2 separate regions of the Homo sapiens genome follow, and region 1 is linked to region 2. Evidence: fine-mapped expression QTL. A gene starts in region 2. The other region holds a variant in brackets. All regions are shown on one strand. Distances are between the middles of the regions. Region 1 overlaps ACOT7 (acyl-CoA thioesterase 7). Region 2 holds the start of RNF207 (ring finger protein 207).

Region 1 (8,321 bases), 120 kb before region 2:
GCTCCACAGGAGTTTCTGTCCTGCCTCCGAGGAAACACGGGTGGGGAGGAGACATGTCTGTGTGGGATCTTCTAATGTATGTTTAATTCATGCTGGGAATGTGAGCGCAAGCTGGCCCAGAACCCGTGGACATAAACATCCCTCCAACCTAGGGACCTTTTTGTCACACTCCCTAACCAGAGAAAAGACGGTGACAGGATCGTGATAGTGACATGTCCTTTCGGGAGCCAGGACCACCAGGCTGCGGGGGCCGGGCCAGCTGTTCCCCCGTGGCCCCTGCAAGCTGGTTCTGATCTCTGCTTCTGACGCAGTGGCTGTGGAAACAGTTGTCATATGAGCTTTTGTCTTTCTCCCTTCTTGTCCCCTGCTGGGGTCTGTCTCCTTCTCTGTGTTTCTCTCATTTCTGGCTTCGCTGTGGTTGGAAGCATCTTTCTTTCTTTCTTTCTTTTTGTTTTTTTTGTTTTTTTTTGTTTTTTTGAGACGGAATCTTGCTCTGTTGCCCAGGCTGGAGTGCAGTGGCGCGATCTCGGCTCACTGCAAGCTCCGCCTCCCACGTTCACGCCATTCTCCTGCCTCAGCCTCCTGAGTAGCTGGGACTACAGGCGCCCGCCACCACACCCAGCTAATTATTTTATATATATTTTTTAGTAGAGACGGGATTTCTCCATGTTAGCCAGGATGGTCTTGATCTCCTGACCTCATGATCCACCCACCTCGGCCTCCCAAAGTGCTGGGATTACAGGTGTGAACCACTGCGCCCGGCAGAAGCACCTTTCATAATACCAGTTCATTATGTTGTCAGAGGGGTCCTGCCATGGGCGGGCCTGTGGGCGAAGCCTGTGGAAGCCACACATACAGACTCCTGGAGGGGAGACGTTGGGAATAAAGAAATTTAATTCGTTGCCTAAAAGTACTCCCTCGCCTCCTTCTCCTGTGCCCCAAGTTCATTGGCAAGTCCAAGGACAGATGTGACCAGCTCCTCCCGCAGCCTGACCCTGCGGTCCACAGGCCACAGCCCCCAGGAAGAGCTCTTCTTAGAGGGAAGGAACCAGGATTCTGAGTCTCTGCAGTGTGGGCCCCGGCAGGGAGCTTTTCCTCCGGCTGAGATATATATATAGAATACATTTTTAGAAATAATAAAACTGAGAACCAGATTGTCAGGAATTGGTGCCTGCTCTTTTTGCTTCCAGACCCAATAGAGACGCTGGGTGCTCTTGCCGCTGCCGGCAGCCTTGGTTCCCTCCCCAGCGTTTGCCGGGTGCAGGCCACTTCCCGCCTGTAGGAGGCCTGGCTCTCCATCTTCCCGTGGCCCCCCGGTCACCAGGGCTGATGGGGCCTCGGTCCCTGCTGCCACTGCCCATGTGAGACTGGGGAGGTGCTCCTTGAGACCTGCTTCCTGCCGTCTCTTCTGTCCCCAGCTCCGTGTCTGACCAGGCACCCTGCCAGGGTCTCCTCAGAGGGCAGTGAAGGTCTGGGTGGGGTGTCTCCCCAGGTGGGTGTGGCTGGCTGCCGGGTCCAGCTGCTGTTTGGCCTAGGTTTTGTTTTTTTTTAATCTTGGTGACAGGGGAGCCCTGTCCATATTTAATGGGAAGGGCAGGCTGGTGGCTGCACCTTTGGTTTTATGAGAGCAGGATGGCAGCATGCCAGAATCTGGCCAGTGGGCGGGGGCTCAGGGTCGGGGTGTGGAGTCCGAGGTCTCATATTCCCACCTGACAGTGTCCCGGGGCTGCTGTGACAAAGTGCCACTGACTGGGTAGCTCTCAAACAATAGAAGTTGATTCTGTCACAGTTCTGGAGGCCAGAAGTGCAAAGGTATGGGCAAGGCCCTGCGCCCTCCATTGGCCCCAGGCGAGGATCCCTCCTGGCGTCTCCAGCGCCGGGTGGCTCCAGGCGTCCCTTGGCTGAGGCTGCGTCACTGAAGCTTCTGCCTCCATCTTCGCACGGCCTGCTTACCGGAGTACGGGTCACTGGGCTCAGGGCCCGTCCCATTCTGCTGTGACCTCATTCTAACTGTTTACAACTACAAAGACCTGGTTTTTGGAGCATTTGCATTTTGAGGTTTCAGGTGGATATACATTTTGAGGGATGCTGTTCAACCCACTGCACCAGCCCTCGGTTCAACAACCTCTCCCGTCTCTTGTTCTTGTGGGGCTGTTCTCTCCCTGCTTCTTGGCTGAGATGGAAGTTGTGGTCATTTTCAGCAGTGCTAACTTGGGGGTGATTGAAGACCTAAGGAGCAGGGGTCAGATGGGGGCTCCTGGCTGTTCTCCGCAGAATTGCAAGCACACCCACCCCACGTTCATTCTTTTCTCTAAGCCCTTGGCGTTCAGTGAGCCACATCACATGTAAATATTGAGACATAGCATTTAACGGATTTAATTTTCAGATGCTACCCAGTTCTGAAATCTCTCCCAGGCCCCATGCCTGGCTTCAGCATCTGATGGTGCATCTCAGGCGGGTGATACCGAGGGGCGGGCCTGGACCTGAACACAGTCACTTTTGCTGCCTTGTCGCTTAGGATCGATGCGCCAAGAGCTGTTGGGTTTTTGGCCAGTGGAGGGGACGGGTAGCTTCTGACTCCCCTGGCTCCCATCCCCTCGCTGCAGGGACAGGGTGCTTTCAGCGTGGCCCCTGTTAGCCTCGCCTCTCCTTGCCCAGTAATTAGCTCCCTCCCTCCCACATCCTGGAGGAGCTCCCAGTTGCTTTTTCATTTCCTTTGTAGAGTGGGTTTGATGAGACATAAATACCAACTTGGCCTTGTCGAGGAGTTGTTGAAACCATTCCATGGCTCCGAGGCAGCCGGAGCCGCAGATGGGAGAGGCTGCACGGTTCTCAGCTGCAGCTGTTGTTCAGAGCTCTTTGCACCATCTTCCCCCCAACACACGCTAGGCCCACGTAGTATAAACCTCCCACTGATTTGGAATCTAGGTCTCCTGTTTTTCACTGGTGGGCCCGGCCAGAGGCCTGCTTAGGAATCCCAGAAAGTACAGCTTCCTTCCCTGGCTCCGATGGGCATTTATGCCCATCTGCTGGTGGCCTGGCCACAGGGCTGTCTTATATTGCATGAGCATGCTCCCGCTGACCTTTCTACAGACAGCCATCCCCGATTTAGGAAAATGTACGTCCCTGTATGTATAGATATACAGATATATATTATATATACACATACAAATAGAGATGTCACATACGTATGCATGTAGATATCTTGAACACGCACACACACACACACACCACACACACACACTGGTTTCCTGGATGTGTGCGTCTCCCTGGAGGAACCCAGCTGCCGGCCATGCGCACAGTCGTCTAGCGCAGGATGTCTTTTCTTTGCTCCACCTTCCTCCCCAGCCTGCCTGCAGCTTTCCCAGTGAGCAGGGAACCTCGGTGGGCCTGTGATGGGCCCGAGGGGCCCCAGGATGACCAGAGGGGCAGCCGCAGCCCTGGACAGGCTGAGTGGCTGTCGGGGGTGGATGCTTTGGTTTTTTTCAAATGTCTGAATATGTGCTCTAGCGAAGAGGTTCACAGCCTGTCTCTCAGATATTTGGGCCACGCTGTCTGCTGCTTCAGATCAGTTGGGTTTGATGAGCTCTCGGGGGTGAGAGTTAGGTGCCAGCCATCATTAAAATGTTCCAGCGGTTTTGTTCCCAGATGGAAAGGCAGCATTGGGGAGGAGGCTGGGCTTCTCCTCATGGCTTGTGTCCAGGACTGGGCCCCATCATTTCCCTGTGCGCCTGCCAAGCCCAGACAAATGTACTGGATACCATGAGGATTTATTAGACCGGGGGCTGGCTCCTTTAAAAAAAAAAATCCCTTTAAAAGGCATCTCTTGAGGATGCTGAAGTTCACCCACCAATGTTCCTAGGTAGATACACAGCACAGACTCTCTTCTCACAGTCGTTACTTGGCCGGTGGAACATTAGGACGTGGTTTATTTATGGAGGAAAAGGTTGAATTATCCACTGCAACTTAAAACACTCCCCACAGTTTGCTTCTTTTGAACAAACGCTTCAGCTCCCTTCTCAGCCTCTTTTGAAGATGGGTTCTCAACTGAAGATGATGGGTAGTTACGCCGAGGAACGGTGAATGGTGCTGAGACCCTGCACAATTTTGGAGCTGAGCCATGAGCAGGAATTATCGAGATGTTTAAAACTGGCTTTTGAAAGAAGGCCTAACACAGCCGTCTGAAGTGAACTTGCTTAGGTCAGAGGGGCTTCAACAGGCGGCCGAGGGGCCCAGAGGGGCCCTGAGTTCCGTGGCTTCCCCACAAGCTCAGCTGGAATGGTTGGTTGAGTGAATGTGAGAGCAGAAGTGGAGGCTAATCAGAACAGCCAGGTGGTAGTCGGCCCCTGGCCAGGCCAAGGGGGAGGGAGAAGGTCGTGGGGGATGGAGCAGGCAGAGGGTCTGGAACCAGCCTGCGGCCAGCACACAGGCCCCGAGGGCCCCTCCGAGGGTCCCATCCGAGTGTGGTGCATCCCCTCCAGTGTGCACAGCAGGGCAGTGAGTGAACCGTCTGTTACGTCCAAGAAATGCAGTATCCCCCTGCTGTGTCCCGGGACTCAGGAGCTTTGGCTTTTG[T/C]GCTGAGTTGTTGGTGTTTTTTATTTATTTATTTATTTTTTTAGACGGAGTCTCGCTCTGTCGCCCAGGCTGGAGTGCAGTGGCGCAATCTCGGCTCACTGCAACCTCCATCTCCCGGATTCAAGCGATTCCCTTGCCTCAGCCTCCCGAGTGGCTAAGACTACAGGTGCCCACCACCACCCCTGGCTAATTTTGGTATTTTTAGTAGAGGCGGGGTTTCACCATGTTGGCCAGGGGTTTCACCATGTTGGCCAGGCTAGTCTCGAACTCCTGACCTCAAGTGATCCACCCGCCTCAGCCTCCCAAATTGCTGGGATTACAGGCACGAGCCACCATGCCCGGCCTGTGCTGAGTCTTATAGTCACATTTATTTTTAACTTCTGGAGTCAAAACCCCTGTGATTCATTTGGAGAGCCGTGGGAGGACAGTTCCATCTTTTACTGCCCATTCTCTACCAATATATAACCTGTTTGATTGGCCAAGGGTCAGCAGGGACACACAGGGTTCCTGCTCTGTCATGGACTTTGGAGAGTGGGTGGGGCCTTTTTGAGGATCCCTTTATTCTGTAATGAATCCTAGGAAGCAATGGGACAGTGCAAAATGATTTTAAGTAACCTAGGATCAGTATGGTTTTAATAGTGAAAAAGCGGGGGCCGGGCACGGTGGCTCACGCCTGTAATCCCAGCACTTTGGGAGGCTGAGGCGGGCAGATCGCAAGGTCAAGAGATCAAGATGAGCCTGGCCAACATCGTGAAACCCCATCTCTACTAAAAATACAAAAATTAGCCGGGCATGGTGGCGGGCACCTGTCGTCCCAGGTACCGGGGAGGCTGAGGCAGGAGAATCACTTGAACCCGGGAGGCAGAGGTTGCAGTGAGCTGAGATCACGCCACTGCACTTCAGCCTGGGACAGAGCGAGACTCCATCTCAAAAACAAAGAAAAGAAAAGTAAAGAAAAATTGGGAACAAGCTAAGTGCCCACATAGTTACAAAAATTACGTTAAATAGATACACGGTTGCTTTTAAGCTCCACATACAGCACCATAGAGCTTTTTATATATTTGTAGGCATTAAAGCAATTCCAGGAAGGATCTAAACCAAACACTTGACCCAGGTTGTCTCTCTGGGGAGTGGAGCCACATGGGATTTCACTGTTTCTGTATTCTTATTACTTATATTAAAACACACATGAACAGAAGAAAAAATAGTCCCAGTTACACAAGGCTATAAGGGCCTGGGATCATGGCCGCCCAGCGAGGGGAGGAGGCCGTGTCCTGCCTGGGCCTGACCTGTCTTTGGTTTCTCGCAGTATTCCCGGCAGGAGCAGGAGGAGGAGGGCCGGAAGCGGTATGAAGCCCAGAAGCTGGAGCGCATGGAGACCAAGTGGAGGAACGGGGACATCGTCCAGCCAGTCCTCAACCCAGGTAAGAGCCGCGGACACCAGCAGCAGGTGCCACTCCTCACCGGGGACGCATAGGAGGCAGGAGCAGGCCGGGCCTACGTGAGCCTCATGCTTGAGGTTCCCCAGGTGCTGAGCATGCTCTCCGGGAACCAGTTTCTCTGGGGTCCCCAGGGAGGGCTGTCCCCCAGCCCCGCCCTGAGCCATGTAGACCCCTCCAGTCACACACCTGGAAGGCGACCTGCGTGACTCAGGGAGTCCCAGAGGGCACTGTGCGTGGGGCCTCCATTGCCAGGCAGGTGGTGTGCACCTGTTCACAAGGAATTTGTTTTTGTTGTATCTTTTCCTTGTGTTCGCTCAGTGGCTTGTTCTTTTCTTTTTTTTTTTTTTTTGAGTTGGAGTCTTGCTATGTCACACAAGCTGGAGTGCACTGGCACAATCTTGGCTCACTGCAGCCTCTGCCTCCTGGGTTCAAGTGATTCTCCTGCCTCAGCCTCCCGAGTAGCTGGTATTACAATTACAGGCATGTGCCACCATGCCCGGCTAATTTTTGTATTTTTAGTAGAGATGGGGTTTCACCATATTGGCCAGGCTGGTCTCTAACTCCTGACCTCAAGTGATGAGCCTGCCTTGGCCTCCCAAAGTGCTGAGATTACATGTGTGAACCACCACACCTGGCCAAGTGGCTTGTTCTTGATGGGATTTCCAACTCATCCAAAAAAGAAAAAAACGGCAGCAGCTGTTCAAGCGCCACTTCTTCCCGGCCCCACTGTTCAGACATTGATTGGAGGAGGGGCTCTGCCAGTAGGCACTGGGCTCTGTGGCATGCCCAGTTTCCCTGTGGTGTTGGTCCCTTCTGCCATCCATCCTCTTGCTCTCATGTCAGGGTGCTCTGGCTTTAACAAAATGTTCACTCAAAATCTAAACGAAGGCACGATGAGATGTTTTGCCTCAAGCAAGGACTTTCTACCCAGAGAACTCCCCGCGTTCCTAGAAACAATTCAGGGCAGGGGGCCCTGGGGAGCATCTGTCCCCCTAGGAAAAGGGTGAGCCCTCGGGGGCAGGCAACGAGCATTACCCCTCTCCCTACTGCACACATGGTGGTCATGTTGTCGTAGTGGCAGGAGAACTCCCTCCAGGACGCACTGTGTGCTTCTCTGCCTCCCTGCGATGGCCTGGGCTCGTGGCACATTCGTGCTCTGTGCTGGGTTCCACAGGGTACCTCATGCGGGATGGCAGCCTGAGGAGGGTTTGCTGCCCCCCACCATGCCTTGGGAGACCCTGGTCATGGTGGGTGTTTGAGTTTCTTACTCAGCTTTCTCTGTTTTGCCTCCACCCTCAGCAGTGGTGGAGGACCTGCCTCAAGTAATCCCTTTCCCCCTTGGATGTGCCTGTGATGTGGGCTCCACTCTGGGGTCCACCTGCTCCTAGCCCTGCCGAGAGGCGCCCTGGCCCCTGCTAACCTGGACTCGGGGCATTGTTATGGCCGCTCACCTCCCTTGCTTAGTCCACATAAGCACCAAAGGGGACTGGTGAAAACCCAGTGGGCGCACAGATGAGAGCATGGCTTTCTGGGCTTGGCTGCTGGCATGCAGCAGGAGTGTGCTTGTTTTCTGGGCGGGTCAACTTGAGGCTTGAACAGGAGTTTGTGTGTATTTGGTCTCACATGTGTGTCTCTGACTCAGTCTGTGCTCCAGCCTCAACTTGCCAAAAGCGGACTGGTTGTCACCTTAGGCCAGTGGGACTGGGTAGGTCGGTTTCTTTACTGTTGGGGAAACCACTGTAGGTTTCCTCTCTTTTCATGTCTGCTTTTTAACAAACACCAAAAAAAGAAAGAAAGAAAATTAATGTGTCAGTATTAATAGAAAGAATGGTGCTGCTTTGATGAAACCCCAGTAAAGAGATATCTTTTTTTTTTTTTAATTTGAGGCAGAATCTCGCTCTATCCTCCTGGCTGGAGTGCAGTGGCGCGATCTCAGCTCACTGCAAGCTCTGCCTCCCGGGTTCACGCCATTCTCCTGCCTCAGCCTCCCCAGTAGCTGGGACTACAGGCGCCCGCCACCATGCCCCACTTATTTTTTGTATTTTTAGTAGAGATGGGGTTTCACCGTATTAGCCAGGATGGTCTCGATCTCCTGACCTCGTGATCCGCCCACCTCGGCCTCCCAAAGAGCTGGGATTACAGACGTGAGCCACTGCGCCCGGCTGAGATATCTTTTAAAAATAAAATTTAAACAGCCAGTTTATCAACACAGCAATACACCAGACAGGCCTGGAGGCACGTGCTGGGGCAGGCAGTGCCCAGGCCGTGCTTTTGGGAGGGCAGCCCAGCAGTCAGGTCAGACAC
Region 2 (8,321 bases):
CCCGAGATCCCTGGTCCAGGCTCCAGGTGACAGGCTGCCCACCCCTGAGTTGGTGGCTTTGGTCTGCAGGGTGGGCTCCTGGTGGGGAGGGGGCATCTGCAGGAGCAGAGGAGACTCACATAGCCCAGGTCCAGGAACTCAGCCTTGTTGGCCAAGCTGAGGAAGGAGGAGCAGATGACCAGGTGGACCTGGGGGAGGGGATGCTGCTCAGTGCCTGGCCGGGGAGGAGGAGGGACCCACCCGCACCCCGAGCTCCCTGTACCTGCAGGGTGGGCAGCAAGGTGGCCAAGTGAGAGAGCTGCTCCTTGAAGGCCTTGTCCTTCTCTTCGTATTGGCTGGGGGAGGGGGGCTGCCTGGTTTCCAGGGGGCCAGGAGCAGGGCCGGGCAGTTCCATCCCCCACCCGCCTCCAGCTTCGCATGTCCGTCCCTGAACCCCTTCTCTGCACCCTGAGCCATGCTGCCCTCCTTAGCTGGGAGGACATTCGGATGTCTTGCTCCTCAGGGTGGGGCAGGGCCTGCCCAGGCTCTGAGCTGAGGCCATGGAGGCCAAGGGGTAAGGGAAGCAAGCCCCGCTCCCCCCAACTCACCTCTGCACAGCCTGCAGCAGCAGCGCTTTCCTCTCTGCCAGCCTGTCCTGGGAGAGATGGCGAGCATGCTCTTGATTTGCGCCCCAGCCCTGCCACCTCCCACCATGCCTACCCCCCGGACCCCAGCCACCTGCTGGTTACACTAGGTATCTCTCCAACCTACCAGCCCTGCATCTGCTGCCTGGTGAGGGCTTGGGTCCCGTCACCTTAAATGTCACCTCCCCAGGGAAGTCTTTCCTGACCACCTCACACCCCCACCACCAGCCTGCGGCAGGCCCTGGTTTCCCCTCCCAGCTCTCCTAGCAACTCCAGGAAAGTGCTTGGTGCAAGGCCTGCTGCCCCACTACACTGGAAATCCACAAGGGCAAGGGACCAGCCCTGTGTCACCAGGTCCCGGCTGGGTCGTTTATCCCCCAACCCCCACCCCTCACCTGCATGCTGCCGAAGAGGGCGTGGATAGCGTCCTCCTCCTCGGCGGCGCTGTGCCGCACCTCCTCCACCATGGCCTGCAGCAGCGCGATGGCCTCCCGCGTGGCCGTCTGCAGGGCCTTCACGGCCTGGGGACAGGGCGTGGTCAGGCTCGCGATCGCCGCCGCGCGGCCCCGCGCGCCAGGCCCCTGCGCTCACCAGCACCGCCTGCTCCAGCCGCTCGCAGCCCTGCACGTAAGCCGATTCCAGGTCCACGCAGTGTGCCCGGCTCTCCCTGCAGAAGGCGGCGGGTGAGGCCCGCTCCAGCGGCCCCCAGCCCCCTCCCCTCGCGTCCCCTGTACGCACTTCTGCATGTCGCGGAAGCAGCGGATGCACAACAGCAACTTCTTGTCGGTGGAGAACAAGAGGTAGGGCTCTGCGTGCAGCGCTGCGGGGGCGGCGGGCGGTGGTGAGGGCTCCGGTCAGTGCCCGCCCCGCCCCCACCCCCAAGTCCCCGGCCCCGCAAGCCTCACTCACTGCACTTCTGGGGCACGTCGCGGCTTCGCTGACCCAGGGCCACGATGTCGTGGCGCGCGAACATGCGTGCTCGGTGCGTCTCGTCGCGGCAGCGCGCGCATAGGGGCTGTCCGCACGTGTTGCAGAAGTACGTGGTCTCCACGTCCTGCGGGCCGAGCGCGGGCTCAGGAGCGCCAGAGCCCGACCGCGGCCAGCGCGGGAACCGCAGCCGCCGCGTGTCACTGCGCGTGTTTGTCCCAGCCGTGGCCGGGTGCGCAGCTAAACGCAGCCCTTTCCTGTAATCCAGGCACTTGGCGCTCTGATATACCCACTTTACAGAGGAGGGCACTGCGGCTCAGAGGCTGGGTAAGTAGGTCCGTGGAGGGGGGTGGGGGACGCGGGGAGAGGGCAGAAACTGCCTTTATAAAACATTTTACCGAGGCCGGGCGCGGTGGCTCACGCCTGTAATCCCAACAATTTGGGAGGCCGAGGCGGGCGGATCACCTGAGGTCAGGAGCTGGCCAACATGGCGAAACCCTGTCTCTAATAAAAATACAAAAATTAGCTGGGCATGGTGGCGGGCGCCTGGAGTCCCAGCTCCTCGGGAGGCCGAGGCAGAAGAATCACTTGAACTCGGGAGGCAGAGGTTGCTGTGAGTCAAGTTGGCGCCACTGCACTCCAGCCTGGGCGATAAAGCAAGAATCCGTCTCAAAAAAAAAAATTTTTTTTTTTTTACCTGCAACAAAAGGGTGTGAGGGCCTCTCACGGCCCCCTTGGCACACTCAATAGTGGCCGAAAGGTGGTGTACACCCTGGCCATCTGGAGTCACACTTGGGGGCGGGGGGAGGGGAAGAGCAGTGAGGGCTTTAAGGTTCTCCTCCCCAAGCCAGACCCAGGGCTGGGATTCCAGGGCTTGGCCTGCAGCCCTGGTATGGACGCATGCAATGATGGACATAACAGGCCCTACCTGCAGTCCCTACCTCCTGCTAATCCTCTCTGTACGTCTGGGTCACACATTGCTCAGCACTTGTCCAGAACGCTGGAGCTTTTGCCCCAGTCGGGCCGTCCTCCTGGGATTCCCGATACATTTTCTGGCCTCCGCAGGCCAGAGTCCCCTGTGCCTTTTACAGCCCAGAGGGAACAGCATGCTGTCCCCACCTCCCCTGGGCTGTAGCTGCTTCTATGCCACTTGGGTAGCAGAGGCCCTTCAGGGTCGGCCCAGGCCTGCAAACTGGACTGCCCCTCCTGTGCAGGTCCACAACTCCACCCTGAATTGGGGACCAGTGAGCTCTCCCCAGATCGAATGGCCTTAGCCTCTGCCACTGTCTGGACACTGGCTCAAGTCCCTTGTTCTGGACCTCAGTCTCCCCACCGGTATAATGGGGTTCACATTTGGGGCCAAGGTGCCCTAGGGAGGTGCTGGAGAATCCACTGCCAGGTCGTCCTCTGAAGACATGCTGAGTGCATGTGCAAGCATTGGGGACTGTGCAACCGGGTACCCTCTGCTCCTCACCCACCCGCCCTGCCGCCCCTGCCTGCTCGCTGCACTCCAGGTCACAGTTGGCACAGCGCACCGCCTCCACGCCATCCCCTGAGCTGTCCACCAGGAACTGCAGCAGCCGGTCCACCGGCGGGAGCCCGCTGGGACCCTTCAGCACCGTCTGGTGTCTGCAGAGAAGCCCAGGCCCCGAGATTCTGATACCCCTTCCCCAGGGCTCCCCACCCCCACCCCTCACATTCCAGGCTGGAGCTAAAAATAGCTGTGTTGGGAGGTGGGGTGCACCACAGCTCTGGGGTCTGCTATAAATATCACAGCCAGCACTCACCCTGCCCTGGTCCCTACCCTTGCCCAGTCCTGGGCACTCCTGCAGACAGTGGGGTTGGTCCCCTAGTATCAAAAGCAGAAGCTGCTCCTCGACATCTTCTCACGGCATTGGGCAAATCAGAGCCACTCCTGGGTTCCTTGAGCCCACATAACTGAAACTGTGGTTTTGTGGACCTAAGACTTCTAGGACCCCCAAGCGAGTAACCGGGAGCGTCCTGACCAGTGCTGGAGCCCCGCCCTTACCCTCTGACTTTTGATGGGAGGTCTTGGGCCAGTAACTGCAATCTCCAGGCTTCAGTTAAGCTGATCTATAAAATGGACCGAAGCCTGCAACTTCTGGCGGGGAGAGCTAAGGACCGGGTGCAGTATCTCCCAGTCGTTCTGCCTGAAGTTGGAGCCTTACTCTCCTGGCACCTGGGTCCCAGCTCGGGCAGAGCCAACCTTGGGCCCGGGGGATGGGGTCTGGGGGGTTTTGGGGAACTTTGGGACACTTACTGGCACAGCGGGCAGGTGAGGCGGCCGTCGGTCGCGCGGCCACGCAGGCAGCCGGCACAGAAGTCGTGGAAACAGTCCAGAAGACACGGGCGCTCGTACTGCACGTGGCACAGCGGGCACACCAGCGGGTGGATGCTCGGGGCATCCAGGGAGCTCGGGCCCTCCAGGGGCCCGAAGATAGCTCCCGACATCTGCAGCGACAGCGCAAGCGGGCGGCTGGGGCACGCACGGAGCCCCGCTTGAGCTCCCGCGGCCCCTCTGCCCGGGCGCCCGCGCCCTCCCTATCGCGCCTGGACCCGACTGGGCGTCCAGAGGTCATGGAGTGGGGAGCCGCTAGGGCCCAGGTTAGGGCTGGGGCCTGGAGCTCCCCGGCGCAGGGAGAACAGGCAGTGAGGACTGGCGAGGGGCGGGGCCTTGTACCTACCCGCTGGGCCGCTTTGCTGGGAGCTACCGGTCCTCCGAGCCTCTCTCCCGCCGTCCAGCGCTCTTAGTGCGGCTCCGGGCCGCGCTCTGAGACACCGCGCGGTCGCTCTGCCGAGGAGTAGCCGGCCCTGGAAGTTCAGGCCCGCACCGGGCGATGGTTCCCACTCTGCGCGGGGCCTCCCTCTGCCGTGGCCTCTCCTACCTCTCCTCACTCCCACCCTCGGAATTCCCCGCCGGGTGTCCTCTGGGTGACCCGCAGGCGACGCCTCTTCCGGCATCCACCTTCCCCAGGGTGGCTGCTGCCTTGAGGCGCGGCGGGGCCGAACCGACCTCCGCGCTCGCCATCTGCTTTGCGCACTGGTTCCGGCCCGGCCACTCCACCTCCAGCCCGCGGGGAGGAGAGGCCAGGACGCCAAGGCTCCAGGGACGGTGCCAGGCAAGGGTGCAAGGATCGGACTGGCCCCTGCCCGGCATGACAGAGTCCGGAGCCCCAAGACCAGAGCGCCGCGCAGAGCGGGGCCGGAGGACCTTGGCTGCGGGGTCTTCAAGGGTAGGCCGGGCGCGGTGGCTCACGCCTGTAATCTCGGCACTCTGGGAGGCCGAGGCGGGCAGATAGCTTGAGGTCAGGAGTTCGAGACCAGCCTGGCCAACATGGCGAAACCCTGTCTCTACTAAAAATGCAAAAATTAGCCAGGCATGGTGGCGCCCTTCGGGAGGCTGAGGCAGAACTGCTTGAACCCGGGAGGCGGAGGTTGCAGTGAGCCGAGATCGCGCCACTGCACTCCAGCCTGGGCTACAGAGCCAGACTGTCTTAAAAAAAAAAAAGAGTCCAAACCCCACCCCCTACCCCCGCTAATCCCCACTCTTCCATCCCATTTGGGTCTGAACAGGTCATCGCCGCCTCATTTCCTCGGCGGCCAATTGGGGGCGCCAGAGAGCAGCGGACGCCCCTCCACCGACTTTCCAGCGCTTGGGAGGCGGAGTGAGACGCCCTGTAATCCCAGCCCTGCCTTTCGCTGGTTGTGAGCTCTTGGCCATGTTACTGACCTCTCAGAGCCTCAGCGCTGGGTTAAAATAGAACTGGTGTCCTGATAATGGGTGAGGCCCCAGTGGAATAACGCACGTGAAATACACATACTGGGCGTCCACTTAATTAAGGCCCTATCCTCATTGCCTGCCAAGTTCCCAAAAGAGGGATGGGTTTGGGTGGGAGGTTGAGAGGGGAGGTTCCCGGCCTTTCCAGCAGTGCCCCCTCTGCCGTCTGGGCCTGGCAGATGCGTGTTGATCCCAGCGTTTTCTCCAGCGTGCGCTCGCTTGCTAGGTCGACGTGATCAGTGAGCTTTCTCCGCCCGTGTTCTCCTGAGTGTCCTGAGAGCAGCCCGTTTCTGCCCCTCTTGCGATTACAAAGTCAAGCCCAGAGCCTGACCCACAGTAGTGCTCAATAAAGGCTTAGAAAAAGCTCGGAGATATTTGAGCTGTTTTCGTTTTGTTTTGTTTAAGACAGGATCTCACTCTGTCGCCGCGTGATCATATCTAACTGCAGCCTTGGCTTCCTTCCACCTCAGCCTCCCAAGTAGCTGGGACTACAACCACGCACCACCATGCCCGGCTAATTTTTTGTATTTTTAGTAGAGACGGGGTTTCACCATGTTGACCAGGCTGGTCTCGAACTCCTGACCTCAGGTGATCCACCCACCTTGGCCTCCCAAAGTGCTGGGATTACAGGTGTGAGCCACTGAACCCAGCCTTTTTTTTTTTTTTTTTTTTGTATTTTTAGTAGAAAAATAAAAAGTACAATGTGCTGCACACATCGGGGGTTTTGCTGTGTTACCCAGGCTGGTCTCCAACTCCTGGGCTCAAGCATTCTGCCTGCCTTGGCCTTCCAAAGTTGCTGGGATTACAGACGTGAGCCGCCTTGCCTGGCCTTGAGCTGGGTTTTGAAGGATGCGTAGGAGTAGGAGTTTGCTAGGAGAAGGAAGTGAATTCTAGAGAGAAACTAGCTGTTCTTTTGAGGACTGTCCCTAGCCCTGGTTCTTTTTTTTTTTTTTGAGACTGAGTCTCATTCTGTCACCCAGGCTGGAGTGCAGTGGCGCAATCTCGGCTCACTGCAAGCTCCGCCTCCTGGGTTCACGCCATTCTCCTGCCTCAGCCTCCCGAGTAGCTGGGACTACAGGTGCCCGCCACCACGGCCGGCTAATTTTTTGTATTTTTAGTAGAGACAGGGTTTCACCATTCACAGGATGGTCTCGATCTCCTGACCTCGTGATCCGCCCCACCTTGGCCTCCCAAAGTGCTGGGATTACAGGCGTGAGCCACCATGCCCGGTCCCTAGCCCTGGTTCTATTTGTGGACCAAATCATAATGACAGTAGTAGCAATGGCTAATGTTTATGTGTTTATAGGCCAACATTCTTTTATGGGCCAAGATTCTTTTTTTTTTTTTTTTTTTGAGATGGAGTTTTGCTCTTGTTGCCCAGGCTGGAGTGCAATGGCGCCATCTCAGCTCACCACAACCTCCGCCTCCCGGGTTCAAGCGATTCTCCTGCCTCAGCCTCCCGAGTAGCTGGGATTATAGGCATGTGCCACCGCGCCTGGCTGATTTTGTATTTTTAGTAGAGACGGGGTTTCTCCATGTTGGTCAGGCTGGTCTCGAACTCCCGACCTCAGGTGACCTGCCCGCCTCTGCCTCCCAAAGTGCTGGGATTACAGGCGTGAGCCACCACACCGGGCCTTTTTTTTTTTTTTTTGTACAAGGGGAGGGAGGGTGGGGAGATATGGGCCAATATTTTATTCTAAGCTGTTTAACTTATATTAACTCATTTAATCTGGAGAACACTCTTAAAAAGTAGAAAATATTACCCCAGAAAGTGGTGGAGCTGGTATACAAAACCGCGTAGGTGCTTTGTTAAGGAATGATGCATTAGTTTCCCGGTAGGAGGTGAGTGCTTCATTCATCCATTCATTCATGTCTGCATCTGTTCAACTAGTATTTACAGAGCATCTACCATGGGCACATAGAAGGGAACACACCAGCCAAGGTTAGTCAAGTACACAGATTAACAAATAATGACAGGCTGCATTAACTGCTTGGAAGAAAATCATAAGGATGATAGGCCGGGTGCCGTGGCTCACACCTGTAATCTCAGCACTTTGGGAGGCTGAGGTGGGCGGATCACCTGAAGTCAGGAGTTCGAGACCAACCTGGCCAACATAGTGAAAACCCGTCTCTACTAAAAATACAAAAATTAGCTGGGCACGATGGATCATGCCTGTTATCCCAGCACTTTGGGAGGCCGAGGCGGGTGGATCACGAGGTCAGGAGTTCGAGACCAGCCTGGCCAGCATGGTGAAACCCTGTCTCTACTAAAAGTACAAAAAATTAGCCAGGCATGGTGGCACGCACCTGGAGTCCCAGCTACTTCGGAGGCTGAGGCAGGAAAATTGCTTGAACCTGGCAGGTGGAGGTTGCAGTGAGCCGAGATTGCGCCATTGCACTCCAGCCTGAGTGACAGAGTGAGACCTCTGTCTCAAAAAAAAAAAAAAAAAAAAAAAAAAAGGAAAAAAAGGAAAAATTAGCTGGGTGTAGTGGTGCATGCCTGTAATCCCAGCTACTCTTGCGAGGCTGAGGCAGGAGAATCGAGATGGCGCCACTGCACTCCGGCTTGGGTGACAGAGTGAGATTCCGCCTAAAAAATTAAATAAATAAATAAGGATGATGAGATGGAGGGCAGTTGGGAGGGGCTCGAGCTGAGGACCACACTAGGTAACCATGAGCAGAGAGGGGGAACTGAGCTTGAGACCCCCAGAGGATAAGAAATTAAGAAAAGCCAGGAAGGCTGGGCGCAGTGGCCCACACCCGTAATCCCAGCACTTTGGGAGGCCAGCGTGGGTGAATCTCTTGAGCCCAGGAGTTCAAGACCAGCTTGGGCAACATAGCAAGACTCCCCCCTCTATAAAAAATACTAAAACTTAGCTGGGCATGGTGGCTCGTGCTTGTAGTCCCAGCTACTTGAGAGGCTGAGGTGGAAGGATTGCTTGAGCCAGGAGGTTGAGGCTGCAGTGAGCTGT

Evidence for each region. PIP is the estimated chance that this variant, and not a neighbour inherited with it, causes the effect. A credible set is the group of variants that fine-mapping cannot tell apart.
Region 1: its variant is the best candidate, but not a certain one, in a credible set for the expression of RNF207 in tibial artery (GTEx, PIP 0.86).

What each region holds. Positions count from the first base shown.
Region 1 is chr1:6,324,977-6,333,297 of GRCh38, reverse strand. It overlaps ACOT7 (acyl-CoA thioesterase 7), which reads left to right. Exons shown (of 9, transcript NM_007274.4): 5 at 5,885-5,999. Among named protein-coding and RNA genes, the nearest start is that of ACOT7, 65 kb to the left of the region's middle. The variant T/C (reference allele first, on the strand shown) is at 4,576.
Region 2 is chr1:6,202,237-6,210,557 of GRCh38, reverse strand. RNF207 (ring finger protein 207) reads right to left here and starts at 4,439. Exons shown (of 18, transcript NM_207396.3): 1 at 4,256-4,439; 2 at 3,832-4,022; 3 at 3,047-3,179; 4 at 1,533-1,677; 5 at 1,362-1,443; 6 at 1,215-1,290; 7 at 1,019-1,144; 8 at 588-634; 9 at 263-335; 10 at 120-188. The coding sequence starts at 4,022. It overlaps RNF207-AS1 (RNF207 antisense RNA 1), which reads left to right and starts at 4,778. Exons shown (of 3, transcript NR_125997.1): 1 at 4,778-4,804; 2 at 5,145-5,352; 3 at 5,576-5,718. RefSeq lists silencers at 1,441-1,510, 1,555-1,849, 3,997-4,166, 5,115-5,409 and enhancers at 4,367-4,596, 4,244-5,063.